Linked DNA regions of Homo sapiens. The protein of the gene in region 1 purifies or fractionates together with the protein of each later gene. This does not show direct contact. Each region holds a gene or a part of one and is shown in the gene's direction. Other genes may lie near its edges.

Region 1 (3,500 bases):
CAATCAGGGTGGTTTTTTTAGTCATTGTTTTATTTAAAAAGAATCATGTTTGGCCGGGCTCAGTGGCTCAAACCTGTAATCCCAGCACTTTGGGAGGCCAAGGCGGGTGGATCACCTGAGGTCAGGAGTTTGAGACCAGTCTGGCCAACATGGCGAAACCCCGTCTCTACTAAAAAATACAAAAAATTAGCTGGGCGTGGTGGCGGGCGCCTGTAATCCCAGCTACTCGGGAGGCTGAGGCAGGAGAATCACTTGAACCCGGGAGGCGGAAGTTGCAGTGAGCCAAGATGGCGCCATTGCACACCAGCCCGGGCGACAGACCAAGACTCTGTCAAAAGAATCATGTTATTCACATCATCCACGTCCTACTCTCTCAACTGTGTGATGGGAATCACTCGTAGGCATATGGCATAGACCTCTAATGCATTGTTGGGATTTTTTCCCCAATATCATACTATAATAAATTTTAAACATAAAGAAAAGTTGAAATGAATCTACAGTGAACATCCACATACCCTTACCTAGATTTCTTTTAACGTTTTACACATATCTGCCCATAGATCCATCCCGCTATTCATTTAGCAAGTCATCTTAATTTTCCTGATGCATTTCAAAATAAGTTACAGACATCAGTACACTTCACTCCAACAAATTATTATTAATTATTTAGCGTGATTATTATCAGCTAGAGTTCAAAATTTATGTTATGTTTGCCTAGAAATAAAAAAAAATTGTTTATGGGTTTTTTTTTTTTTTTAGACAGTTTTGCTCTTGTTACCCAGGCTGGAGTGCAATGGCGCAGTCTTGGCTCACTGCAACCTCCGCCTCTGGGATTCAAGCAATTCTCCTGCCTCAGCCTCCCAAGTAGCTGGGACTACAGGCATGCGCCACCATGCCCAGCTAATTTTTTGTATTTAGTAGAGACGGGGTTTCACCATGTTGGCCAGGCTGGTCTTGAACTCCTGACCTCAGGTGATCCACCCGCCTTGGCCTCCCAAAGTGCTGGGATTACAGGCGTGAGCCATCGCGCCCGGCCATGGGTTTTTTGTTGTTGTTGTTTGGGTTTTGGTTTTTTGTTTTTTTAAGTCAAGGTCTTGCTCCGTTGTCAAGACTGGAGTACAGTGGCATGAACATAGCTCACTGCAGCCTCAACCTCCCAGACTCAGGCTATCCTCCCACCTCAGCCTCCTGAGTAGCTGGGACCATAGGCGTGTGCCACTATGCCCAGCTAATTTTTCATTTTTTGTGGAGATGGGGTCTGTCTATATTGTGCAGGGTGGTCTTGAACTTTTGGGATTACAGGTATGAACCACTGTGCCGGGCCTTTAAGCAAAATTTGCAAACAGCAAAATGTTCAAATTGTAAGTGTACTGTTCTGTGAGGTTTAACAAATGCATATATCTGTGTGCAAACGCCTGTTGAGGTACAGAACATCACATCACTCCAGAAAGCTCCCTCGTGCCCTTTCCTAGTCAGTCCTCACTCTTACTCACCCAGAAGCAACCACTGCTCTGATTTTTTCATGACAGTACCTGTTCTAGAAATTCATTTAATGGAATCATATAGTATGTACTGTTGTGTAAGGCAACTTTCACTTAGCGTAATGTTTTTGAGATTCATCCACAATGTATCAGTAGTTTCTTTTTTATCACTTAGTAGTATTCCATTGTATGAATCCAAATCACAGTTTGTATATTTATTCCCCTGTTTATGGACAGTGTTTTTAGTTTGGGGCTCTTCTGAATGAAGCTCCTAGGAACATCTTTTTTTTTTTTTTTTGAGACGGAGTCTTGCTCTGTTGCCCAGGCTAGAGTGCAATGGCATGATCTTGGCTCACTGCAACCTGCACCTCCCAGGTTCAAGCAATTCTCCCGCCTCAGCCTCCTGAGTAGCAGGGATTACAGGTGCCTGCCACAACGCCTGGCTAATTTTTTTTTTTTTTGTAGAGACGGGGTTTCACTGTGTTTGCCACGCTGGTCTCGAACTCCTGACCTCAAGTGTTCCATCCGCCTTGGCCTCCCAAAGTGCTGGGATTACAGGCGTGAGCCACCGTGCCCAGCCAGGAACATCTTATACAAGTCATTTTGTGGACTTACATTTTAATTTCTTTTGGGATGTAACTAGGAGTGGAATTTTTGAGTCATAGGATAGGCATATGTTTAGTTTTACAAGGAACTATTAGACCTTTTCCCAAAGTGCTTAAACCATTTTACAGACCAACAAACAATGCATGAGAGTTTGGGTTGTTGTATTTTTTATTTTTTTGAGACAAAATCTCATTCTGTCACCCAGGATGGAGTGCAGTGGCACAATTGTGGCAGACTGCAGCCTCAAGGGCCCAGCTAATTTCTTAATTTTTTTGTAGAAACAGGGTCTTGCTATGTTTCCCAGGATGGTCTTGAACTTCTCAGTTGAAGTGATCCTCCTACCTCAGCCTTCCAAAGTGCTAGGATTACAGGCATGATCCGCTGTGCCTGGCCTGGTTGTTCCGTATCCTTACCAGTGTTTCGTATTGTGAGCCTTTTAAATGTTAGCCATTTGAGTGGGTGTGGTACATCTTTTCAATGGCTGCATAATATCCCACGGTATGAGTGCTTACAATGTGTTCACCTTTCACTCTGTTGATGGGCATTTGTTTAATTTTCAATTCTTGACCACTGTGAGTGACTCTGCAGTAAGTATCCTTGCACATATGTCTTTATACATTGGTACTTTTCTTCCCATGGGACACATTCCAGGAACAGTGTTACTGGGTTTTGTGGGGTTTTGTTTTATCTTTTAAATTTAAATTTTATTTTATTTTATTTTTTGAGTCAGGGTCTTGCTCTGTTGCCCAGACTGGAGTGCAGATCTGCAATCATAGCTCTCTGTAACCTCAAAGTCCTGGGCTCAAGCAATCCTCACACCTCAGCCTCCTGAGTAGCTGGGACTACAGGGGTGTGCCACCACACCTGACTAATTTTTTTTTTTAATTCTTTGTAGAGACAGGGACCTGCTATGTTTCTTAGGCTGATATCAAACTCCTGGGCTCAAGTGATCCTCCCACCTCAGCCTCCCAAAGTGCTAGGATTAGAGGCGTGAGCCACCATGCCCAGTCCCTGGGATTTTTTTTTTTTTTTTTTTTTTGTGACAGAGTTTGGTTCTTGTTGCCCAGGCTGGAGTGCAATGGCGCGAACTCAGCTCACTGCAACCTCCGCCTCCTGGGTTCAAGCGATTCTCCTGCCTCAGCCTCCTGAGTAGCTGGGATTAGAGGTGCCTGCCACCATGCCCAGCTAATTTTTTCTATTTTTAGTAGAAATGGGTTTCTCCATGCAGGTCAGGCTGGTCTCAAACTCCCGACCTCAGGTGATCCGCCCGCCTCAGCCTCCCAAAGTGCTGGGATTACAGGCGTGAGCCACCGTGCCCGGACAGTCCCTGGGTTTTAAAGGATACCTGTATTTTAAATATTTGTAGATGTTGCCAGATTGTTTTCCCAAAAGATGGCAATACTTGACTCTTCT
Region 2 (3,462 bases), on another chromosome or scaffold:
CAAACACATAAAAAGAAAAATATAAGTACTAAAATGTACTACAGTGTATTTCTAATTTTTAAAAAATTGTAGTTTTGATTCTTATATAGTATAAAAGAATCAAATTAATTCTAGCAGTGTCTAATCTTCTGATTGCATATTTTTTTCTGGAACAAAATATCCTCAAACGTATGTCTCCAACTTCATGTAGGAGTAGAAAATTACTGAAGCAACTGTCAGCCTGGTGTGGGCCCAGTTCTGAGGATAGTCGGGGAGGCCGGCGAGCTCCCGGCAGAGGCCAGCAAGGATTGACCAGAGAGGCTTGCCTGTCCATCTTGGGCCACTTCCCCAGGGCCCTGGTTTGGGTCAGCCTGTCCCTGCTCAGCAAGGGCAGCCCCGAGCCTCACACCATGATCTGTGTCCCAGCCAAGGAGGACTTCCTCCAGCTCCATGAGGACTGGCATTACTGTGGGCCCCAGGAATCCAAACACAGTGACCCATTCAGGAGCAAGATCCTGAAACAGAAAGAGAAGAAGAAAAGGGAGAAGAGGCAGAAGCCAGGACGTGCCTCTTCTGATGGCCCGGCGGGGGAAGAGCCCGTGGCTGGGCAGGAAGCTCTGACTCTAGGGCTGTGGTCAGGCCCTCTGCCGCGTGTGACGTTGCACTGCTCCAGAACTCTCCTAGGCTTTGTGACTCAGGGAGATTTTTCCATGGCTGTTGGCTGTGGAGAAGCCCTGGGGTTTGTTAGCTTGACAGGCTTGCTGGATATGCTGTCCAGCCAGCCTGCAGCGCAGAGGGGCTTAGTGCTACTGAGGCCTCCCGCCTCTCTGCAGTATCGATTTGCGAGGATTGCTATTGAGGTGTGAATGCGTGCTTGTATCCCAGCAGGGCATAGATAATACGTTATTATTGTCTGCCAAGTTCTACATGTGGAGAATCTGCTTCTGCTTTAAAATATCATGTGAAACTCCCTGGAAACAAGAATAAAAAATTATGTATTATGCAGATGATGAAATGTTTACATCATTCCAGTAATGTCATTGATTTTCATCTTTCCCTGTCCTTGCTGTAATACTTTTAAATTATTTGGCCAAAAGCTTTGTATTATGATCTCTTGGTCTGTGTAGTTGTGGCTGAAAATAATGAGAAGCTCTACGAGTTATCATCCCCTTTTTTTGTTAGAAACAAAGGGCTTGTCAGGTCTATTTGAAAAACCTCATAGTCATGTGATAAGCAACAATAGATGTTTAATGATTTCACTGTTATAGCAGAAGACAAGAGAAGACGCTTGGCCTCTGTACATGAAATATGGGCTCCTGATGGACCTCATTCAATTCTGTACTGTGATTTCCATGCCGAACAACTCAAGCCTTAAAGAGAGAAATCATGGACAACTGATTTCTGCCTGTTTTCAGGCAGGCACAGTTTATGGCGTCAGTGCTAGGCTGGAATTAGAAAGTGGGGGTCTATGACGTGGACTTCCTGACTCTTTGATCTCTTTGTTGTTGACCAACACTTGATCCTACTAGTTACTTAATTTTTTTAAGTAAAAAATTATTATTATTTTGTTTCTGCAAAGATTTTCTCAAAGCCATAGAGGAGCATTTCTCAGAATATGTTCTATGATATGTGTCACCTAAAAAAGTAAGAGATTCCAAGGTCAGGTTGATATGGAAACTCTAGGTTAAATAAAGTTAAGCATTTCTTTATGAAAGAACTTCTGGAAACTTCCATGTGATAATGTGCATTGCGGATCTCTAGGAAGGAAATGATAGTGTATAGTATTTTCTAAATACTTGTGATTCCTAAAGTTCTCTTACAAGGAGCCCTTTGTAGGACCAGTGTTCTTAGTAGCGCGCTTTGGGCAGTGTGGCTGTGTAGTGCATAGCTACCTCTGCAAGGTGATAACTAAGCCGGCAAGCTGCCTTTCAACACTCATGCAGTCACGTTGTCCACCTGAGATTCTCAACAGGGTATAAAAGGAAGGTCTCATCTTGCCTCACAGGAAGAGTGGGCTCAGTGTGGCTTTTTTCCAACTATGGAGAAACTCAGTGCTCATCTACTTTAAGTTTCCACATATGGCTTGCTCATAGCCTTGGTCCTTACCTTTCCTGCCATAACTTTCTAGAAGAGCTTAATGGGATTTTTTTTCTAAAAAATGTAAATATGCAGTTAGGCATTATTTTATGTAAATGCATTGGGTTTTTACTGTAGCATTTGGCACTAAATGGCTTTGGGGGTGATGAGGTGGGGAAGGATACAGCAGGTGGTACAGTAGTCAGGAAGTACCTGCCACCAATGAGATGTCTGATGCTTTGCCTCTTACCATGCCTCTGAATGTCTTTGGATCCAACCCAGATGAGACTGAAAAAAAAAAAACAGTGTAACTAAGTGGCATCTGTAAACAGAATAAATGAAAATGTCACCTGATGTTCAGTTGTGAATATTTATATTTATTGGACCATTCCTTATTTGTTTTCTGGGCTCTCAGTCACCTCATTTGTGGCTGAGCTCACTCGATGACAGAAGTCTGAGTGTGCTGCGTGGTCACCTAACCTCATTCTGTACAGCCCTGCCTAGGGCCTGCTGCCCCGCCCTCATTATAGGGGACAGGGCACGTTTGCAGCCACTCTGCCTGGTGGGTGGTAGGTCAAAGAGCTGCGCACCAGAAAGATAGATTAGCATTTCCCAAAATGTATTCCTGGGAGTACTAGTCCCTGCAGCTGTTCCTGGAGAAAAGTATTTTATGGCTAAATAAATATGGGAAAAGCTATATATGGTATCCTCCTATTATGATTCACAATGAATACTTGCAGAGTCAAAGCTCTGCAAAGCTCTTTAGGAAAGAAATCTGTCTTTCAGACTCCCACACACGTACCTTTTTTGGTTTTTGCATACCTATTGTCCAGAGAACACTAGTTTCACAGAAGATACGTTGAAAAACTAACAGACTCTGCAGAGGCAGTAAAGAATCCATGTTCCTTATGAAAAAGACTGATAGGGGAATGGCTTACTTTCTGGCAGTTGAATTGATTAGCGTGTTGATCTTGATCCTTCCAAGTGCCTGCCATGCTGTACTAGAGCTACATAGCTACCAAATAAGTGCAATGTGGCCCTTGTCCTCTTGTTGAGGGAGCAATGCTTTTAGGGTTCTTGAAGCATCCTGACCAACATGGTGAAACCCTGTCTCTACCAAAAATACAAAATTAGCCAGGCATGGTGGCGCATGCCTGCCATCCCAGCTGCTTGAGAGGCTGAGGCAGGAGAATTGCTTGAACCCGGGAGGCGGAGGTTGCAATGAGCCGAGATCGCACCATTGCACTCCAGCCTGGGTAACAAGAGCAAAACTCCATTCCAAAAAAAAAAAAAGAAAAGAAAAGGCAGAGTTGTGAGCTGAACACTTACAGACCAGCTATGCACTTGAGTTCTGTAAGAAACAATGGATTCCTTTTGGTGTTTATGCTCTAGTAATATTGTTCATAT
Region 3 (4,440 bases), on another chromosome or scaffold:
CAGGGGTGCTATCACAGCCCACTGCAGCCTTGACCTCCTGAGTGTGCCCTTTTTGGTAGTCAGATTGTACCCATACTGGACTTGCTATGCTTGCTGTTGTAATTACTAAAGATGCTTGAAAGGCATACATTTCCATGTCTTTGGTCCTACCCACCATGATTTACCAAGGGGAAGGTTGGAGCTTATTGTGGTTTTATTTTTACAAAATTCTTGAGTTTGGATTATTTTCATGTATTGAATGAGGTAGGCATGTAACTTAAAAGTTAAAAATTCCCAAATAACCTAATTGTCCCAGCATCATTTATTGAATACTTTTTATTTAATAAACACTTGTGCCTTCTGTGCAGTTGGTACTGTTCTAAGCACATTACTGATTTAAGCACTAGCTGGTTGAATCCTCATAAACAACGTTGGGAGGCAGGTCTCTTGCTATGCTTATTTTACAGACAAGAAACTTTGAGGCTCCAAGAGCCCTCTTGCCTTGAGGATCCACAACTAGTAAGAGGCAGAGTTGAGATTCAAATCCAGGGTCTGTGGTCTGAACCAGTGTGCATGTTGAAGGATTGTCAGATTGACAGATGCAAGCAGATACCGACCCTCTTGGTAAGAAGGCATCCAGACTTAGAAGGCCCAGGGGCACTTTACAGGTGGTTGATAAGGTGATTAGGCTGGAGGAATAGGAGGCCCTGAGAGGCCTGGGGGCTGGTGCCTCTGCCCCATGACCCCTGCACATGGCCCAGTGGTCTCATGACCACTGATAACCAGGGGCAGCAGACGGAAGCCAGAGTCAGGGGTATGTTTGGATAGGGGGCAGGGCAGGGTACAAAATCAGAAATAAGCGGCCGGGCATGGTGGCTCACACCTATAAGGTGGGTGGATCACGAGATCAGGAGATCGAGACCATCCTGGCGAACACGGTGAAACCCTGTCTCTACTAAAAATACAAAAAAAAATTAGCCGGGCCTGGTGGCGGGTGCCTGTAGTCCCAGAAATAAGCATCAAACTAAGAACTGATATTTGAGGTAAACCAGTATCATGAAAGAGCATCACCAAACTCAACCAACTCCTGACACCCTAGAAGACAGAGTCACTATGAGAAAGAGGAGGTGTAGTCTATAAATATGTATGTGCAATGAATAGTCTCAGGTAATAAGAGTATATTGTATCCATGAAACAGACACTGGTTGCTATGAAAACGATTCTATTAAGGATCTTGGAAATGAAAAATAGATTGAAATAAAAATCTCAGCGGTTGGCTGATAGAATAGATCCTGAAGAAGGAAAGATTTAGGAGTTGGTCCCAGAGACTTTATCATCCAAAAACTCCTTCACAAGGAATTACCTGGCTGGGTGCAGTGGCTCACGCCTGTAATCCCAACACTTTGGGAGACCGAGGGGGACAGATGACTTGAGGTTGGGAGTTCGAGACCAGCCTGGCCAACATAGTGAAACCGTGTCTCTAATAAAAATACAAAAAATTAGCTGGGCATGGTGACAGGCGCCTGTAATCCCAGCTACTTGGGAGACCGAGGCACAAGAATCACTTGAACCCGGGAGGCAGAGGTTGCAGTGAGCCAAGATCGCACCACTGCACTCCAGCCTGGGTACAACGGAGCATGACTCTGTCTCAAAAAAAAGAGAAGGAATTACCAAGAGACTGTAAGAGGAAAGAGTGTGATACAAAAGCACAGCAATAAGTAAAGAAACTGCTAAACTTAGGTTTCTGGTGTGCATGTTTGAATTCTTAAGTCAAAATGCTCCTTGTATGTTGTATTTAACAAAACAGTCAATTGAACGCATAATGAAAAGCCAAATGTTTCTGCTGTGACCTGTTTCCATGTTCCACTCCTTGAAGGCAGTCACTTAGTTCTTCAAACTACTTCTCACGGCTACCTCTGTATCTCTTTTTATTATTTATTTATTTATTTATTTATTTATTTATTTTTTGAGACAGAGTCTCGCTCTGTCCCCCAGGCTGGAGTGCAGTGGCGGGATCTTGGCTCGCTGCAAGCTCTGCCTCCCGGGTTCACACCATTCTCCTGCCTCAGCCTCCCTAGTAGCTGGGACTACAGGCACCTGCCACCACACCCGGCTAATTTTTTTGTATTTTTAGTAGAGACGGGATTTCACCATGTTAGCCAGGATGGTCTCAATCTCCTGACCTCATGATCCTCCTGCCTTGGCCTCCCAAAGCGCTGGAATTACAGGCATGAGCCACCGCACCTGGCTTACCTCTGTATCTCTTAATAAGCCTATGTTGCTTTTTCTTGACTGAACAGTTTTATGCATGACCATTGACATTCTCTGAAGATATATGTGGATTAATAAGTTCTTTTTTTTTTTTGTTTAAAGAGATGAGTTTTCATTCTGTTGCCCAGGCTAGAGCACAGTGGCATGATCATAGTTCACTGCAGCCTCAACCTGGGCTCACAAAATCCCCCTGCCTCAGCCTCCCAAGTAGCTGAGACTACAGGAGTACACCACCGCATTCAGCTATCAGCTTTTTTTTTTTTTTCTTTTTTTAAGAAATGGGTTTTTGCTCTGTTGCCCAGGCTGGTGTCTAACTCCTGGGCTCAAGCGATCCCCCAGATCACTGGGGTTACAGGCATGAGCCATCATGTCCAGCCTTAATAAATTCTTTTTATTAGTTAGCAAGTGAAAAAGTCAGACCTCTAGGAGGCAGATATAAGAAGGGCTTCTTATCTCCACCCTCTGAGGGCCAGCAGAGATTTGAGACCTTCCACCCTCACACCCCACAAGCATGATTTGTTCCCACTGGAGCCTTGTGGACAGAACTGGCCATTGCCTCTTTGCCGAGGTGACCTGCCTCGTGTCGTGCACTAAAGATGTCAGAAGAGCCAGGTGCGGTTACTCACACCTGTAATCCCACCACTTTGGGAAGCCGAGGCGAGTGGGCCGCATGAGGTCAGGAATTTGAGACCAGCCTGGCCAACATGATGAAACCCCATCTCTACTAAAAATAAAAAATTAGCTGGGCATGGTGGTGGCTGCCTATACTCCCAGCTACTCAGGAGGCTGAGGCAGGAGAATCACTTGAACCCAGGAGGCAGAGGTTGCAGTGAGCTGAGATCGCACCACTGCACTCCAGCCTGGGCGACAAGAGCAAAACACCGTCTCAAATCAATCAATGAATCAATCAGAAGTATAGACAGACACATCCACTATGGCTTTACTTCCTTGTTTGGAACACCAAGGGGCAGGCTTCCGTCCTTTTCTATGAGAGAGTGCAAAGCATCAAGCCTAGAAAATGATAACAACAGTGCAGGATATAAAGCTGAAGGAATATGTCATACTTTGTTTTCTCTCATCTTCTAAATTGTCCCCTGGGAGTGGGCCAGCCCTGACCATGCTCTCCAGGGAGAGCCCACCAGGTCCTACGTGTTCACACACTCAGGAAAACAAGTGGCTAAGAATCCCTGTGGTCTAGCCTCAGCAGGATTGTCCAAGCACCCCAAAGTTAACATAAAATCTAAATAATTGATGTTTGGGGTGAAATAAAAGAAACTAAAATCCCAGATGATCTAAATATGTGAGGCACAAGGGGAAGGAGGGAGGTAGGTGTGCAGGCCTTTGTCTTGTTTGACATGAGGATAGAGCTAAAGGGTAATTCTGGATATTGATACAAAATAAAAGTTTAGGTATGTGTGTCGATTAGCCATTAAAGGAACAGAAGTGAGGTCTATAACTTCCGTACTACTATAGAGAGAAAGAAGCAAAAACACAGGAATTGGAAAACACAGAGATGGGAAATTGCATAGCAGGTGAACGCTACCAAAAAGAAAGGATGTAGAGAATTGTTTAGGCAAAAAAGACTTTAAGGAGAACAGCACTAAAAGGAGCAAAAGAAGTTCCTGATAAAAGGGAAAGTCATCACGAACATATAGATTGTGAATCTTGGTGCCTGCACTACATAGCTTTGAGCCATGTAAATAAACAACCTTTAGAAATCATTTAAGTCCAGAGCTGGGTGCGGTGGCTCATGCCTGTAATCCCAGCACTTTGGGAGGCCAAGGTGAGCAGATCACCTGAGATCAGGAGTTCAAGACCAGCCTGGCCAACATGGTGAAACCCCATCTCTGCTAAAAAAAATTCGAAAATTAGCTGGGTGTGGTGGCGGGTGCCTATAATCCCAGCTACTCGGGAGGATGAGGCTGGAGAATCACTTGAATCCAGGAGGCAGAGGTTGCAGTGATCCGAGATTGCGCCACTGCACTCCAGCCTGGGTGACAGAGCGAGACTCCGTCTCAAAAAAAAAAAAATCATTTAAGTCCAAAACCATGATAAGAGGAATTGGATGAATCCAAAACCATGGTAGGAGACATTAATGTTTCTCTGAAATGCGTAGACGACGTAATCCAAATAAGGTTGTGGAAGATTTTATAACACAGGAAATGAGCATAAACAGAGACAATCTGCTAA
Region 4 (4,440 bases), on another chromosome or scaffold:
CCCCCCTGCTCCCCTTCCCCCCTGCTCCCCTTCCCCCCTGCTCCCCTTCCCCCCTGCTCCCCTTCCCCCCTCCTCCCCTTCCCCCTTCCTCCCCTTCCCCCCTCCTCCCCTTCCCCCCTTTCCCTTCCAGAGCCCTTTTATGCAAAAGACAGTGCTGAAACCTCCGTTTTCTTTCAGTCCCTCCTATCCACCCACAGAGTGAAGGAAAACAACTTTAAAACACTCTTTGGTCCTTCTCCCCTCTTTAAACTCAAAAGGGTATAATCATCCCCGGGAGAGAGCACTCCTTTTAAATGGGGCTACTCATCCTGGCTTGGCTAATGGTGAACCTACCTTGTGGGTTTTAAATCAACCGTGACATCAGGTGGTATTGGGTGCCTGAGCTGGCATTTTGTGTAAGTCCAGGAGCCCTTGATAGTGTGCGTCACTGGGGTTATTGATCGTGGGAAGAAGACAGCTTGGCTGGCATCTCACCTTTTCCTCTGAGTGGAGAAGCTGACTTGCTTTAAGTGCCCAAAGCAAAATTCTGAGTAAGGGTAGATTTGCTCTGTTATTGTTTTTTGGAATCTTAAGGCAAGAGAGTGTCTACTTGTTGGTTTAGAACCTTTGGAATAGGTTTTGACAGCCTAACTCAAGTTAATCCAGTAGCTTCTCTCTCTAAGCCTGTTGTTAGGGTTTGTGTGCATTTTGAGAGAGAATTCTATGATTGGGTTGTCAGTCTGGTAAGGCTAGATGATGACCCTTTCTCTGGAGCCTACGTGGATCTCTGAAGTGCTTTTCCAGCCCTGGTTTTATTTACAGCTTCGACAAATTTAAACGTGACACTAGTGGAGTGGCTGTGTGGTCTTGGGAATTTTTGTGTTCTGTGATGCACATGTTTTTGGGAGTCTACAGAAATGAGTACCTCATAAGCAAACTAAAAGCTTTCCAAAGCTTGCTGTAAATGCCTATTTTTAGCCTTACTTTTGGCTCAAATGTTGGTGTTTTAGTTCTTTAAGGGACACATGCAGTAACTAGTAATAAAATATGTTTCGTGATATCTCTACTTTCTTGTGGGGTTCTGTATTCTGGTTTAAGCGTCCAAGTCTTACATTTGTAGTTTTAAGTCTTGGGATTTGCATTTTGGTTTTTTAGATCTCCCTCCCTCCCCAGAGTATTTTTAAATGTTTAAAATTTTTGTCTTATCCTAGCCATACCCCTTTTAAGTATAAGATCCAAGACGTCTAAGTTAAGAGATGATACATAGCGAATATTCTGGGGTCAAACTGAGTGGGTTCAAATGCCACTGTACCACTTGTTAGCTGTGCTTCCTTGGGCAAGTTATTTAACCATTCTATGCCTCACCTTCTTAATTTGTGTAATAGGTATTTATGATTCACCTGCCTCATGGGGGTATTACCAGCATTCATTGTTATGATAAGTGTATTTAGCCCAGTGCCTGGCAGGTAGACATTGTTACTTACTCTGGGTCTTGGTGGGACTTTTCCCTGGGTCTCTGGTTTTCTCTACCTGTAATATGATGGGGTTGGTGAATGCAGATCTTTCCTTTTCTTGTGTTATATAAGTACTCCGTGAAATGTATGGGATCTGTCTCCTTAAAACTTGACTTTTGCTTATCCACAGACATGAAGGGCATGGATGGATAATTTAAAGGTTGCTGACTCTTAAGAATTAGCTATTTTTTGCTTTGGAATGTGGTGAGATGAATTTTAAAAAAATAAGTTTTAACTTTTTAGTTTGCCTTTTGTAAAGATTTTCTTTGGGGGGAGTTGCACGTGTGCTCTCAGGGATATGAGGAAAAGCCAGCCTAACTGGACTGAAAGTTTGCTGTGGCTGGTGCACATGTAGTGCCGTGAGACTTGAGAGTACAGATAGTCCCCAACTTATGATGGTTCAATTTATGATTTTTTGACTTTATGTTGTTGGGAAAGTGATACACATTTATTGGAAACTGTACTTCAGGTACCCATACAACCATGGTTTTTCACTTTCAGTACAGTATTCAATAAATTAATTACATGAGACATTAAACGCTTAAAATAGGCTTTATGTTAGATGCTATGGCCATCCGTAGGCTAATATAAGTGTTCTGAGTGCATTTAAGATAGGCTGGGCTAAGTTTGTTTGTTTGTTTGTTTGTTTGTTTGTTTGTTTTTTTGGAGACAGTCTGGCTCTGTCGCCCAGATTGGAGTGCAGTGGTGTGATCTCGGCCCACTGCAACCTCCACCTCCCGGGTTCAAGCGATTCTCCTGCCTCAGCCTTGAGAGTAGCTGGGATTACAGGCATGTGCCACCATGCCCGGCTAATTTTGTATTTTTAGTAGAACGGGGTTTCTCCATGTTGGTCAGGCTGGTCTCAAACTCCCGACCTCAGGTGATCCACCTGCCTTGGCCTCCCAAAGTTTTGGGTTGGGATTACAGGCGTGAGCCACCGCGCCCGGCCCTAGGAGCTACTTCTGATCCTGCTCATGACCAGCAATGTGGACACCGGCAAACGCTTTGCTTTCTCTGTGCCTGTTTCTTCGTCTGTAAAATCAGGGTATTAGACTAGGTCTAAATGTCTTAAAATTTTTCTAGTATCAAAAATTTTTTTCTAAAACTCCCTCCCCACAAAAGAAAGAAACCAAAGTAGAGCTTTATATATGTGTAGCTTTGTATTTGCGTTGTGATTAGGAATCCAAGCTCTCTGGAGGCTGGAGAAACTCTTCTGGCTTCAGGAGCCTAAGTCGATGGCTTGGGGGTGTATAATGGAGCAGCCAGACATTATGTGCCTTACAGTGTCTGAAAGCACACAGCACTGCCTGAAAATTTCCTCCACCAAATAAAAACTGAACCTAAATCTAACAGAACCATAGATCCAACTGCCAGTTTATAGGGAAATGGGGCTACAGGAACAGACTAATTAGCCATGAGGTAGGCAGTTATTCAGTTTCTAAATGTGAGAAATTCTACAAGACACACTATTTCCAATAAATAAATGGCATTTTTTAAAGGGAAGAACTGTTACAGATGAAGAAAGTTGAGACATCAGTCGTGCATTGTTGTGGATCTTGTTTGGATCTTGATTCTTGACCAAATGTCCAAAGACATTTTGATGACAACTGAGGAAATTGACTAAGTTAAGAAATTATCTTATTTTGTCAGGGGTGATAATGGTATTATGATTGTTTTTAACTGTGTAACTGGATATATTGTGCACCCCCACCTAAGAACTGTTAGGTTAGTCTATTACATAAGACTTAAGGCTTTTTCCTATTGTGCACTTGATCTTAGCCAAAAGGCCAAGAAGCAATATAGTGTGAATCACTTTCTCTTCTTCTAAGGAAAGGTCACAATTAGGACACCCTTTGAAGGGGAGAGTGGGAGGCAGCTTTCATCGGGAGCCTTCAGCTGGCCTGGCCCCTTTCCTTTTGCACAGGTAGTTTGAGTTTCATACTAACCCGGAAGTGAGTGCCTGCCAGGTAGGGGAAGGTTTTTAGGAAGTGGTTTTTGGCCCTTTGGGAGGTAGAGGGTAGTCACAAGCTTTCTTGAACTCTGAACCTCCTGAGGGTCGGGGTCTTTCTGCTGACCCACCCACTGTCTATAGTGGGACCTGAACTGGAGTAAGCAATCTTAATAGCTGTTACTGAGCACCCATTCTCTTTTCTGGGAGGTGGGCAGGGTGGGAGGAGGAGGAGGAGCAGCCGGCCTGAAACTACAAAACCTCTTTAAGATGGAGAGCTTGGCAGATGGGAGTTCCCCTGTTTGCAAAACCCAAGACAGCTCAAAGGGAGTAATTAGGGTGTTGGGGCCACTGGAGGTTCAGCAGGTGCCTCAGTCCAGACTCAAAAACCTCCCTGGCTGGTCCAGAGTGATCTAAGGGAGTGGCCAGGAGAGAGGATGGCCTTACCTTGCCTGGGATTCAAGAAAGGAAGTAAGTTTTGGTACCTCGCTGGTGAAAACATGGGAAACAGCACATCAATGTGAAGGGAGAAGGTGATGGGATTTAAATTAGAACATGGGCAGGGTACTTCTCTCTGCTCTCACTTTGTGACCTTAGATTGTTTGTCTAACCTGTTTTCCTTATTCACAGAATGGGGCTAATCCCGGTGCTGAGGTTGTTTAGAGCGTCAAATTGCTGTTGAGTATGGGGCAGTACAGTTCATGAATTGAAAAAGTCCTGCTGGGCGCGGGGGTTCACACCTGTAATCCTAGCACTTTGGAAGGCCGAGGCGGGCGGATCATGAGGTCAGGAGTTTTAAGACCAATCTGGCCAGCATAGTGAAACCTCGTCTCTACTAAAAATACAAAAAAATTAGCCAGGCATGGTGGCGTGTGCCTGTAGTCCCAGCTACTCAGGAGGCTGAGGCAGGAGAATTGCTCGAACCGGGGAGGCGGAGGTTGCAGTGAGCTGAGATCGTGCCACTGCACTCCAGCCTGGGTGACAAGAGCAAGACTCCAT
Region 5 (3,939 bases), on another chromosome or scaffold:
GTGAGTGTTGAGGAGAGGTGACTTCAGGTAGGAAGAAGGATCAAGAGAGGCATTGTGGAGCATATAACATTTAACCTTAAAAGATAGGTCTTATAGAGAAGGTGGGAGGAGAAAGAGGGCATTTTAGGTGGAGGACAGATAGGCAGAAACATGGAGCGTATTTGGAGAAGTATGCATATTGGATGCCAAACACTAGGTACATTTACAAATGTTCTCATTGCATCATTCAGTAACCTTCACAGATAAGGTTGCTAAATCTCATGCCAGAAAAGTAACTCCCAAGGACCCCCAGCTGGTGACATGGTAGAACTGAGAGTTGAATCCAAGTTTGACCAATTCTAGTTGTTTCGCTCCTTCTACTAAGCTTCATTGACTTCCAGCTAACAAATGTCTAATTTGTACTAAGATAAAAGAGAGTTGTGAGAAATAAATTGAGAAAATGAAGTTGGAACCAGGTTACTGAGGTCTTTGAGTAGTAGGCTAAGGAGTTTGGACTTAGGGTAGGCAGTAAAAGTCATTAAAGGTTTTTGAGCAACAATAATGGTAGTGAAACTAATTCACAAAGATTAGTCCAGTAGCACTGAGTAACATAAATGGCAGTGGGGGATGTTTCAAAGTGGCAAGTTTGCTAAGACAACTGATGTTAACCAGGTAAGAGAATGAGAGCATGAACAAAGAGCAATGGAAATAGACTGACAAAGAAGTTGAGGTAAGTTGTGAAAGCATAATTGACAAATATTTGGATATATGAAGAATGAGGAAGAGAGAGTAGATTAATCAAAATTACTGTGTGAGAGGATGGTGATGCCACTGGTAATAGGAAGAGAAGATTTAGAGGGAAGATTTGGACATAGTTGAAGATGCTGGTAGCACATTGAAGCATTGTGTCTTGCGCATATAGCTTTACAAAATGGCCATTGTGCTGGATATTCTTTTTGCCCTTCCTGATCTATTTTCCATCTTTATCTCTCTTGTTCTGTGTTCCTGGGAGGCTGACAAATAAAGAACTGCATACTCTCTTTTCTGGCTTTATTCATGGTGGGTTTGGACAGTGATAGAAAAGTGAGGCTGAAATATTTGCTCCTTCTCTTTCTCATATACTTAGCAAGAGATTGTGAGTGGCCACAGCTCTGCTCCAGTGGCCCTCTTATAGCTCTAGGTCTTTTCTGGCTTCTCGTAACTGTCTCCTATTGCTAGATTCTCTAGTCCCAAGAAGGTTCAAACCTTGTTGATTTGCCTTAACTGTGCCCATACCCTTGTAAATAGTTCCTTTTATTAAAACTCTTCAATAACTGAATATACTGTGGTCATCTCTTCAGTGAAATTAAAAAAAAAAACTTCTTTCACATTTTCTTATGACTTGATCTTCCCACACCACCAAACGTGAAGATCTAGCTATTTGCACTAGGTTACTATCCCTAAATTCAGTGCCTCCCTGTTTCTTAGTATGTCAAGTTAAAATTTGTTACTCTTCTGCTGGGTGATTGTGCTGGAAATACAGAAGAAAAAGACAAAAATCCCTGCCCTCAAAGAGCTTATATTTTACTGGGGAGAGACAGGCAATAAGACATAATCAATTATATGGTATGTTAGAAGATGAGAAGTATAGAAAAAATTAGGGTGAGGAATGGCGATTGTTGCAAGGGATGTTTGTGAGGATAGCATACTTTAAAATAGGTGGTATGGGTAGGTCTCTCAGAAAGTGACATTTGAGCAAAGACTTGAAGGAAATGTGGGAGTGAGCAATATAGGTATGGGAAGAGCATTCTAGGTAGAGGATTAGGAAGAGCAAAAGCCCTGAAGCAGGACTGTGTCTGGCCTCTGAAGAAATGCAAATTGTTCAGGGTTGTTGGACCTGAAGGAAGAGGAGGAAAGGAATAATGAGGCCAGAGGGGCCAGATCATGTAGGGATTTGTAGGTTGTTGTAAGGATTTTGGTTTTCACTAAATGAATGGTGAACCATTTCAGTTTTGAGCAGAGGAGTTCCATGATCTGATTTGAATTTTAAAAGATGTGTTTCCCAAAATTCCTATTCCTTTCATACAGCTGCTTTCAATGAAGGTTTATAAGGAAAGCAATCAGAACTACTTGGATAAGGTATAAGTGATCCACAATCTTTTCAACTCTACCATAGGTATCTACATATATATGTTGAGAGATGCTGCTTTTTGGCCAAAATGAATCTTGAATTGGGGGTGTGCAGAAAAAGTTATATCTGGCCTGAGGCTGGTATCTTTTAGAGTGGCCTACTTGCATGGTTGGCCCTTATCTGAACACGTGGATTTAGGGGTATTCTCACTGTTCACTAATAAAGGTGGTTCACTGTACCTAGACTGTTCAAACAAGATGATTTATGCTAAACACCTGCTTTCCTTCTGGGAGTATGGAATTTTGGTACATGCCAGGTAAAGGATGTCTATATGACCAAACTCCCAATGAAAACCTTGCATACTGAGTCCCTAGGCAGAAACATCCCTCGTATAAAAATGTGCTCTGTGTGAATCTTCATGGGAGGGAGAGATCCTAAAGAAGCCTGCACATGGATTCCTCCAGATTCTGCTTATGTCTTTTTCCTGTATGATCCAACTGTGTACACTTACTGTGTCACTGTAATAAACTTTAGCCATGAGTACGATACTTAGCAGTGCTGAGTTTTGTGAACCCTTCTATCAAATCTCAATATGGGCTTGGTCCGGGGGATCCCTGACACAGGCAGATTTTTTTTTTTTTTTTCAAAGAGTCACCAAGTTAATTGGAAAACATCAGGTTATGGATAGAAGGAGCAGTTGGGCAACCTGTCACAGAAGTCAGCCAGCTCTGTCTAGTGGAGAGCTCTTCTGAGCTGTTTCTGCTTTGTTAATTCCTTTTCTTTCTCCAAAAGCTTCCCTCCATTTGGTTTTGTCACACTTTATACATTTGTAACAAACTGCTGACCGGAATTTGTCCATCAGGTTATGAAAAATGGCAAATGAGGAGAGTAAAATTATGGATTTATTTATTAAGAACTATTAAAGTATTCATATGCTCTGGGACACCATTACTAGGAATTTAACCTTAACAGAACAGTTTATTGAAAAATTTATTGAAAGGAAAACAGTCTTTGCATAAAAATTATGACGTAGCAAAAAATTGGAAACTAAATGTCAAATATTAGGGAAATGTTAACTGTGGTCTGTCAAAAGGTGAAATATTAACTCAGTGTTATCAGGTGAATGAATTAACAAGATGTGGTATATACATACAATGGAATATTCAGCCATAAGAAAGAATAAATTTCTGGTATATGCTACAAGATGAATGAAAACATGCCAAGTGAAATAAGCCTGCACAAAAGGACATACTATGATTGCACTTAAATGAGGTACCCAGAGTAGGCAAATTCAGAGAGATAGAAATGGGAAATTACTGTTTAAGGGATACAGAATTTCTTTTCAGATGTTGAGAAAGTTCTGAAAATGGATAGTGGTGATTGTTATACAACATTATGAATGTACTTAATGCTGATGAATCGTATATTTAAAAATGGTTAAAATGGCTTTTTTTCTTTTTTTTGGAGGCCGGGTCTTACTCTGGTGCCCAGGCTGGAGTGCAGTGGCATGATCATAGCTCACTGGAGCTTCGAACTGTGGGCTCAAGTGATCCTCCCACCTCAGCCTCCCCCGTAGCTAGAACTGACTACAGGCACGCGCCACCACAGCTAGCTAATTTAAAAAATCTTTTTGTAGAGATGGAGTCTTGCTATATTGCCCAGGCTAGTATTGAACTCCTGGGCTCAAGTGATCCTCCCACCTCAGCCTACCAAAATCCTGGGATTACAAGTGTGAGCCACCACACCTGGCCTAAAATGGCAAATTTAATGTATATTTTACCACAATAGAAATTGTAATGAAAAAATATATTATTTAACATAATAAATATGTAAGTATATTAAAGTAGTGG
Region 6 (4,440 bases), on another chromosome or scaffold:
GACCTGTGGAATGTACCTCCTACAGCATGTTGTTACTGAACTACCACTCTGATTGGGTGTCTTTGGCTGAGTAATAGAGAAGAGTTTCCAGGGATGAGGAGGTAGTCCTACATCCCCACTTAGTCTCTGGGTATCCTCAGGGACAGGTCTCCCTTCAGGTATCCATGATGTTTCCTGTGTGTTGAGGCATGGAACAGGTCTCCTGCCAAATTACCCAAGATAGTAGAAAAGCTGATTGTCCACCTCAATCTCACTTTTTCCGGTGTAGAAACCATGAGTTAGGGGAGATTTTCCAGGTACTTGGTGCCAGCCAGATTGAGAGAAGGGGCATCACAGGTGTGAAAATTCGATTCTGTCACTGTCTGCTCAGAGGTTTTTTACGTCTCTGTGGCCCAGGAACTGACTCGTCCTCATATTTGAGTCCTGGGATAGTGCTGATGATAATGTTAGCATTGTATATTTATTTTTGGTTTTCTTTGTCAGGATTGAAGTCAGCTTGTGACTACACCACCATTTTAGACCCAGAAGTTTCCCAAATATGCAGTTATTATTGGCCATGTAGAAGTTTCTAAGACCTAGGGCCATATTTTCTAATGTTTAAATGTCATTTTTTTCAAATAATGTTAATCTTCAAAATGTGATTTTGTCTATTTCTAGAATGTGATTTTATCAGATCTCATTAAAGCAAACTCAAGAAAACTATTCAAGGGTTGGTCAAAACATGCCAGTATGTGAAGTATGATTGGGACATGGAGATATGTTTACTTGGAGCTTTGTTTTAGGCATACTTTATATAATTGAGCTGTGTATTTGAACTATATGAATATGACAAGTTACATAAATTTAGCTAAAGACATTTTGGTTTAAAATCTTACACATTTTTGTAATTTCTATAGGAAAAAGCTGTTGCTCAAATGAAGATAATGATCTCAGAGTGTGAATCATCTGTGAAGTAAGTCATTAATGAAATTACATCCAGCTTTTTAGGAGATTTTCAGTGAATACAGCTTTATCTATTCAGTAGCATTGCAGCAATAGAAGAATTTCCCTTTCAATTTCCCCATTTTTGTCAATGGTAGCATCATTTTCTCAGTCTCCAGCTTGAAAATGTTATCTTCTTTAACCTCTCCTTTTCTGTCATCCACATCTAAACACTTATGTCTTATTAACTATTCTCCTATATACCTATTTGTTCCTTATTTTTACTATAATTATGCCACTTGGAGCCTAATCATTAAAACCTAAAATTACTTTAGTAGCCAATCTCGAATTTATTCTCCATCTAAACCTATCTTGAGCACTGTCACAAAATTTTACATTTTATGTATAGTCTCTCTAGGCAGATTGTAAGCCACTTCAAGAAAAAAGTCACTTATTATATTTATTTTACATACCCTTAACATTTTATATAATAGTGGGGATTATAAACATTTAATAAATATTTGCCAATTGAATCTATGCTTTACTTTTTGTTTGTTTGTTTTTGAGACAAGGTCTCACTCTGTCGCACAGGCTGGAGTGTAGTGGCGAGATCTCTGCTCACGGCAACCTCACCCTCCCCAGGCTCAGGTGATCCTCCCACCTCAGCCTTCTGAGTAGCTGAGACTGCAGGCGTGTGCCACCACGCTCAGCTAATTTAAAAAAAAATTTTTGTAGAAACAACGTCTCCCTATATTGCCCAGGCTGGTCTCGAACTCCTGGGCTCAAGCTATTCAACTGTTTTTGTTGTTGTTGTTGTTTTTTGTTGTTGAGACGGAGTCTCGCTCTGTTGCCCAGGCTGGAGTGCAGTGGGGCGATCTCGGCTCATTGCAAGCTCTGCCTCCCGGGTTCACGCCATTTTCCTGCCTCAGCCTCCCAAGTAGCTGGACTACACGTGCCCGCCACCACACCCGGCTATTTTTTTTTGTATTTTTAGTAGAGACGGGGTTTCACCGTGTTAGCCAGGATGGTCTCTATCTCCTGACCTCATGATCTGCCCGCCTCGGCCTCCCAAAGTTCTGGGATTACAGGCGTGAGCCACCGCGCCCAGCCCCCAAGCTATTCAACTTTTAACACTTGAAAGTTTTCTGTGTTTACTTGACTGTTGGAATAACATTTTTTTTTAACTTCATTTGCATGTAATTATTGGTAGAGCTCTAAAATACCTGTTCTACCTAATTAATAGGTCTCTTAATGCAGCAGTTATAATTTCTTATAATCACAGTATATTTGTATTCTAAGTATACTTAGACTATAAGTTTTCTTTTAAATGAACTACAGTTTTTAAAAGTTTTCTTTATTAGTTTCACATCACTCATTTAACAGCCAGCTGAAAGAAACATTGGTTAATCGAGATCGTGAGATAAACAGCCTCCGGCGCCAGCTTGATGCAGCTCACAAAGAACTCGATGAAGTAGGAAGATCTAGAGAAATCGCTTTTAAGGAAAACAGAAGACTGCAAGATGACCTGGCTACAATGGCAAGAGAAAATCAAGTATGAACACAAGGCATAAATTTTGATAGTTTTATACTTTCCATTGTTTGCTAAATATTAAAGCTCTAAATATTTTTTCTAAAATCTGATGATATAAAAATAAGTGACATAAATAATTCATTAAGGACAATGGTGTTTATCAGGGTATTAAAAAATGGAGCTTAGGCCGGGCGCAGTGGCTCACACCTGTAATCTTAGCACTTTCAGAGGCTGAGGTGGGTGGATCACTTGAGGTCAGGAGTTCGAGACCAGCCTGGCCAACATTGTGAAAACCCCCCCCCCACCCCCATCTCTACTAAAAATACAAAAATTAGCCAGGCCTGGCGGCATGCGCCTGTAATCCCAGCTGCTCGGAAGGCTGAGGCAGGAGAATCACCTGAACCTGGAGGCAGAGGTTGCAGTGAGCCGAGATCGTGCCACTGCACTCCAGCCTGGGCAACAGAGTGAGACTCCATCCAAAAAAAAAAAAAAAAAATGGGCAACAGCGTGAGACTCTGTCAAAAAAAAAACACATAGCTTAGAATGCTGCTATATATCACAGGGTGTCTAATGGGTGCAACTGGTCTTCTCACCATTTTGGTCTTTGTTGCAAGGAAACCTAAAGGTGGGAGCATGAAATTCTGTATGTCAGAAATCATTGTCACCCTACCGGGCGAGGACATCAGCATCCCTCCCAGAGCAAAGTTTCTGTGTTTTAAAGACTCAGGATAGGTTTTAATTATTTGTGCAAGCTTCTGTCGGCTCCAAAATACACCTGTAGATAAATGAATGAGTGTTTTAGAATGGCAAGTACTGAAAGGTGTTAGTTCTGTTCGTGCTGGTTTCTTAAAAGATTGTACTGAGAAAACCAGTGATTTTACTGTTTTAAACATCTTACGTTTTTAAAAAATTATTTTCCGTATTATTCAGCATAAAGCATATTGATGAAATATGAATGTTTTTTAATGTCAACCCCTGACCATAGCTAGCCTTTAGTGTAAATGCCAGATACATGATCAGGACTATTATGGGAAATGTGTGATAAAGTTTGGTTAAAAAGTCAGTATCAGACCAGGCGTGGTAGCTCACGCCTATAATCCCAGCACTTTCGGAGACCAAAGTGGGAGGATTGCTTGAGCCCAGGAGTTTGAGACCAGGCTGGACATCATAGTGAGACCTCATCTCAGAAAATTAAAAAAAAAAATTAGCTGGTATGGTGACATGTGCCTGTGGTCTCAGCTACTCGGAGGGCTGAAGTGGAAGGATTGCTTGAGCCCAGAAGGTCGAGGCTGCAGTGAGCTGTGATCACGCCATTGCACTTCAGTCTGGGCGACAGAATGAGACTCTGTCTGAAATATTTTAAAAGGCAAGATCAGCCAGGAAAAATATGTGAAAATAACACTTAGGAACAGTTTTCCTTTTGCCCTACTCTATCTTATTCTCCAATTCCAAAGGAATTATTTGAATATAAATAAAATTTATTTGGTGTTGTGTTCATTTTAGATTGTCTTTAATTTTCTGATTTGTAGGAAATCTCATTGGAATTGGAAGCAGCAGTGCAAGAAAAAGAAGAAATGAAGAGCAGAGTTCATAAATACATAACAGAGGTGTCACGATGGGAGAGCTTAATGGCTGCCAAGGTGAAAAATATTATTTAGGTTGGATTTAAGACTGAGGTTTTTTTTTTTTTTAACTTTTTCATGTGCCTCTACAATTAGATATTAAACATTTTAAAGTAGAGATCTTGTCTACTGCCTTTTTCTATTTTTCCCATAGATTTTAGTGTGGTACCTGCACAGATATCTAATGCTTCCTAAATTAGAACAGAATGCTGTGTATGTGTATGTGTTTATGACATAGGTGTTCCAGGAAGTGACAATTACTAATTTAGAAACAATTTTATTGTGATTAAACCAGGAAAAAGAAAATCAAGATTTGTTAGATAGATTTCAGATGCTTCATAACCGTGCTGAAGACTGGGAGGTCAA
Region 7 (4,440 bases), about 23 Mb from region 1:
TTCCCAAGTGCTGGGATTACAGGCGTGAGCCACCGTGCCCGGCCAAGATCTTGAAATCTTTAAAGAGCAAATTAAATGGTAAAAGAAATTAACTTAGCAAAAATTTCATGTTACGTACAATTCTCAGATGTCTTTGCTTTTGCATTATTTGATACATAATTTAATCTATCTGCCTTTGTGTTACTTGGTACAAATCAGTGCTGAATCCCCTCTTTTGGCTGTTATTATGTATCAGGTGTTGTAAACTAATGTTTACCATAATTTGGATAATAAACCTACCATTTGGGGAGATAGTGAAGAAAAAAGAGATACATTTTCTGGAATGGAGTATTGGTAATTATTTGTTTTAACTATTCTCAGTTTTGCAGATAATTGGGTTAATGTCATTTTAAAAATTGTGCTTGTTTTTTACTGGATCGGCATATAATTTTGAATTATTGCTAATATCACACTAATTCCTTTTTGTTAAATGTGTCTTCATAGATTACACACACTCCGCCTGCAGGAATACTTATCAGGGCTTTAATGGTAAGTATCCTCTTTCAGCTTTTCTCTTCATGCGCATAAAAATATAGTATCAATGTAAAAGGCCAGTTCTACCTATTTCAGTCCTTGTTTTGGTTCTTGATATATCATTTATGTGTTAATATTGTCTTACTATATATAGTATTTGAATTGGGGAATGTGCTATCAGAAAATGTTAGGGGTTATTCACATTAGTTTGATTTTTTTTTTGGTCCATTTTGTTTGAATTATGATTATTTTAATGTGTTCCAAAGGGCCTAACTACATTCTGAGTGATGAATCACAAGACACTGGCTGAGTTATTTTGGTTGAATTAGAGGCTTTGGTATTGAGTAATGTAGACTAAGTGGATTATTGGCTTGGTTCTATATAGCTTGTATTGTAATGCATTTTGACCTTGTTTTTGAGGTCATTTTCTTCAGTGTGTCCAAATGTGTTAGTATATAAAGAGCTGTCTAGAGGAGCACATGAAGAAGCTTGATTGTTTATTGACATGAGCATGACATTAGACTTGTGACTATAGAACTAGATAGAATCATGAGAGGTATGTAGAATACAATTGGATGTCATTTTGATAGTTATTAGAGTTAGGGCCCTGCCACACAAGATAATAATACAAAAAAAGAACACAGAACAATTAATGCAGGTTAAAAAACATATGAAGGACTTGAGGCATTAAATATCATGATTGCCAGAGAAATGTAAAATCCAACTTTCGTACAGAATAGAATATATTCACAAAGTAAAACTGAAGCAAATGTATACTAAAGACTATGCCATTTATGGGAATAATTACTGAACAGTTAATTTTTATTTCATTATCTTTAAAGATTAAGATAAACTTTGGATTTCATGTGGGCTAAAAAGGCTTAACATATAGGGAGTTAGTACTGAAGAATGTATTTGTGAGCTGGAAATTGAAAATTACCAAAGGAAGTTTAATTTGCATCCACATGTAAGTTATATTGAAAACTGGAAAATTAACGAGAAAGCCATTTCATAAGTTTTGATATAAAGATTTTAAGGCCTTGAACTTGGGAGGTGATAGTAGTAGTAATCTTAAAAATAAAGAGCAAATTAGCAGAACTTGCAGGCTGACTAGTAATGGGTAGAAAATTGAGAGGGTTGAATAAAAATGAATCCAGGATTTTAAACTGGAATGTATGACTAGTGCTTTTACAAGGGAGAGGGGGAGGGGAAGAGGGAGGGGGAGAGGGAGAGAGTTTGTAATGATAAAAGGCCATCTAGGATTTACTGGATAGTTGGATTTAATGTCTAAACATAGGACTTGAAATGCAGACTCATGCAGGGCCAGATGTTTATTTATTAATTAGTATACAGTGTTGCAAAAAGATCTAATATGACTTTTATTTTTTCTCTTAATTTTAGTTATAACTGGTTCTCATCTGAGGGTGATTGTTGGAATCTCTTGGGGAGCTTTTTCAAAGTCTCTCTTTTCACACATAGCCTATACCTCTTGAATCTTAATTTCAGGGCAAGTGGTCTTTGGCTGTGTATGTTGTGCAAAACTACTCTGAATGATTTTGGAAGGCACCTCTGATTAAAGACCAATGCTTGACAGTACTTCTAGGTCTAGATTATCTATATTTTACAAATGAGGAACTTAATTTCAGGGATTCAATTTGACTTTGTTCAGCAAATATTTATTTAGTGCCTGCTGGGCATCAGATATCGTTCTAGGAGGTGGGAATATAGCAGTGAACAAAATGGACAAATATTCCTGCCTTTGTGAGGCTTTCCGTCTAGTGGGATGAAATAGTAAACAAGATAAGAAATAATATATATGTCATAATTTAGTCCACAGGGGAAAAAGGGAGTAATATTTATTGTATGTTAGATGATGATCATTGCGAGGGAGAGTAACATAGAGAAGGAGGATAAATGTGTGTGTGTGCTTGTATGTGTTGCAATTTTAGAGTCTCTGGGGAAAGACTCACCAAAAAGATGACATTTGAGCATAGATTTAAGATGAGTGAGTATGCAAGCCATGAAGCCATTTAGAAGAAGACTTACGGGCTTTAAGAAATAAACAGTGTGTAGGTACCAAAAAGCCAAAAATATATTTTATTGTTAGCACTGTATTTTCTAGGAAGTGAAATGAAGTAGAAGGCATTGGAAAACATGGCAAGATACAGATTTTCCCCACACTATTTCTTGGAAGGAAAATGTATTTCCAGTGTCTCCATGTTTTCCTTCTTGCTTCATAATACCTTTTACATAAATAGCATATAGAAAAGGGGAGAGAAAAGGGTGTGGTAGCTCATGCCTATAATCCTAGTGCTTTGGGAGCCTGAGGTAGGAGCACTGCTTGAGGCCAGGTGATTGAAACTAGCTTGGGCAACATAGTGAGACCCTGTCTCTACAAAAAAATTTTTTAAAAACATTAGCCAGGCGTGGTGGTGCCCCCCTATAGTTCCAGTTACTCCAGAGGCTGAGATGGGAGGATCGATTGAGCCCAGGAGGTGGAGGCTGCAGTGAGCTATGATTGTGCCACTGCAGTCCAGCATGGGTGACAGAGCAAGACCTTAACGCTGGCTTGACTAGAACAGATGATTTTTTGCTGAGCAATCTTAAGACAAGGTTAGAGTGGTGAGGTGGAGCCAGAAAGCATTGAAAATCAAAGATAATTTGCTTATATATCAGAAGCAATACAAGTGAAGACCTGAAAAAGTTGAGGGAGTAAACAGTGCAGGTTCAGGGGAATGAGCATTCCAGGCAGAGGGAACAGCAGCTGCTAAAATGGGTATACACCTTGTGTTCTAGAGACATCAAGGGGCCTGGTGTTGTAGTAGTGGAGTGAACAGGGGTGTATGTAATTGATAATGAAGTTAAGAGGTGATGGGGCATATCATGTAGGGCAGGGTTTCTCAAATTTCTTACATTTTGGACTGGGTAATTTTTTGTTGTAGGGGGATGTCCTGTGCATTGTGGAACATTTAGCAGCCTCCTTGGCCTCTATAATATGCCAGATGTCAGTAGCATCTGCCCCCTAGTTGTGACAACCAAAAATGTTTCAGACATTGCCAATGTCCCCAGGGGGTGCAAAATCTCCCCTAGTTAAGAACCACTGGTATAGGTTCTTAGATGTTATTTTAAGCTTTGGCTTTTACTTGGAATAAGAGGAACCCATTGGAGGTTACTGAGCATTGAACATGATTGAACTTAACATTTTGTCAGAATTATTGTGGCTGTTGTCTTCAGAAAAAACAGCAAAGGAGCAAAAGTGGAGCAGGAAAACCAGTTAGGAGACTTTTGCAATAACCTAGGTGGTAGATGTTGGTATCTTGTAGTAGGGTGCTGGTAGTGTAGAGTTGCTAAAAAGTAGTCCCACTCAAGACTTAATGTCACATAGTTAGTTATTTTGGTCATAGGTCAGTTTTTAATTTTTTTTTTTTTTTGAGGTGGAGTTTCTCTCTTGTCGCCCAGGCTAGAGTGCAATGGTGTGATCTCAGCTCACTGCAACTTCCGCCTCCTGGGTTCAAGCAATTCTTTTGCCTCAGCCTCCTGAGTAGCTGGGATTACAGGCACCCACCACCATGCCTGGCTAATTTTTTTTGTGTTTTTTAGTAGAGACGGAGTTTTACCATGTTGGTCAGGCTGGTCTTGAACTCCTGACCTCAGGTGATCCACCCGCCTTGGCCTCCCAAAGGATTGGGATTACAGGTGTAAGCCACCTTGCCCAGCCCATAGGTCAGTTTTTTTTCCCCCAGTATGTCACAGCTGCTGCTTTGTGTTTTAATTAAAAATGAGTTTTAGCATTTTTGAGCGTATTATTTGTATGATAGAGTGATCCAAGTGATAGAATATATTTGATTTAAATTATTAGGTCAGTTTTATTTTTCTGGGTAAATTACTATCATTTAAGATATACTACTATGTTCTCATGGTTTTATT

Evidence for each region.
Region 2: the proteins of MOV10 (region 1) and POP1 purify together in Homo sapiens (affinity purification with mass spectrometry; one large-scale study listed by BioGRID). This does not show direct contact.
Region 3: the proteins of MOV10 (region 1) and SUGP2 fractionate together in Homo sapiens (co-fractionation; one large-scale study listed by BioGRID). This does not show direct contact.
Region 4: the proteins of MOV10 (region 1) and LARP1 purify together in Homo sapiens (affinity purification with mass spectrometry, with the first as the bait; one large-scale study listed by BioGRID). This does not show direct contact.
Region 5: the proteins of MOV10 (region 1) and HNRNPA0 purify together in Homo sapiens (affinity purification with mass spectrometry; one large-scale study listed by BioGRID and IntAct). This does not show direct contact.
Region 6: the proteins of MOV10 (region 1) and CEP135 purify together in Homo sapiens (co-immunoprecipitation; one large-scale study listed by IntAct). This does not show direct contact.
Region 7: the proteins of MOV10 (region 1) and ZNF326 purify together in Homo sapiens (affinity purification with mass spectrometry; one large-scale study listed by BioGRID and IntAct). This does not show direct contact.

Annotation. Positions count from the first base shown.
Region 1 is NC_000001.11:112,681,159-112,684,658, forward strand, and holds part of MOV10 (helicase MOV-10), read left to right. Parts: intron 1-3,500.
Region 2 is NC_000008.11:98,157,427-98,160,888, forward strand, and holds the end of POP1 (ribonucleases P/MRP protein subunit POP1), read left to right. Parts: intron 1-190; coding exon 191-845; 3' UTR 846-2,409; downstream 2,410-3,462. UniProt on the Homo sapiens protein: Component of ribonuclease P, a ribonucleoprotein complex that generates mature tRNA molecules by cleaving their 5'-ends. Also a component of the MRP ribonuclease complex, which cleaves pre-rRNA sequences.
Region 3 is NC_000019.10:19,012,709-19,017,148, reverse strand, and holds part of SUGP2 (SURP and G-patch domain-containing protein 2), read left to right. Parts: intron 1-4,440. UniProt on the Homo sapiens protein: May play a role in mRNA splicing.
Region 4 is NC_000005.10:154,757,801-154,762,240, forward strand, and holds part of LARP1 (la-related protein 1), read left to right. Parts: intron 1-4,440. UniProt on the Homo sapiens protein: RNA-binding protein that regulates the translation of specific target mRNA species downstream of the mTORC1 complex, in function of growth signals and nutrient availability.
Region 5 is NC_000005.10:137,744,349-137,748,287, reverse strand, and holds the end of HNRNPA0 (heterogeneous nuclear ribonucleoprotein A0), read left to right. Parts: 3' UTR 1-2,637; downstream 2,638-3,939. UniProt on the Homo sapiens protein: mRNA-binding component of ribonucleosomes. Specifically binds AU-rich element (ARE)-containing mRNAs. Involved in post-transcriptional regulation of cytokines mRNAs.
Region 6 is NC_000004.12:56,007,431-56,011,870, forward strand, and holds part of CEP135 (centrosomal protein of 135 kDa), read left to right. Parts: intron 1-896; coding exon 897-952; intron 953-2,304; coding exon 2,305-2,473; intron 2,474-3,981; coding exon 3,982-4,092; intron 4,093-4,369; coding exon 4,370-4,440. UniProt on the Homo sapiens protein: Centrosomal microtubule-binding protein involved in centriole biogenesis. Acts as a scaffolding protein during early centriole biogenesis.
Region 7 is NC_000001.11:89,997,627-90,002,066, forward strand, and holds part of ZNF326 (DBIRD complex subunit ZNF326), read left to right. Parts: intron 1-483; coding exon 484-528; intron 529-4,440. UniProt on the Homo sapiens protein: Core component of the DBIRD complex, a multiprotein complex that acts at the interface between core mRNP particles and RNA polymerase II (RNAPII) and integrates transcript elongation with the regulation of alternative splicing: the DBIRD complex affects local transcript elongation rates and alternative splicing of a large set of exons embedded in (A + T)-rich DNA regions.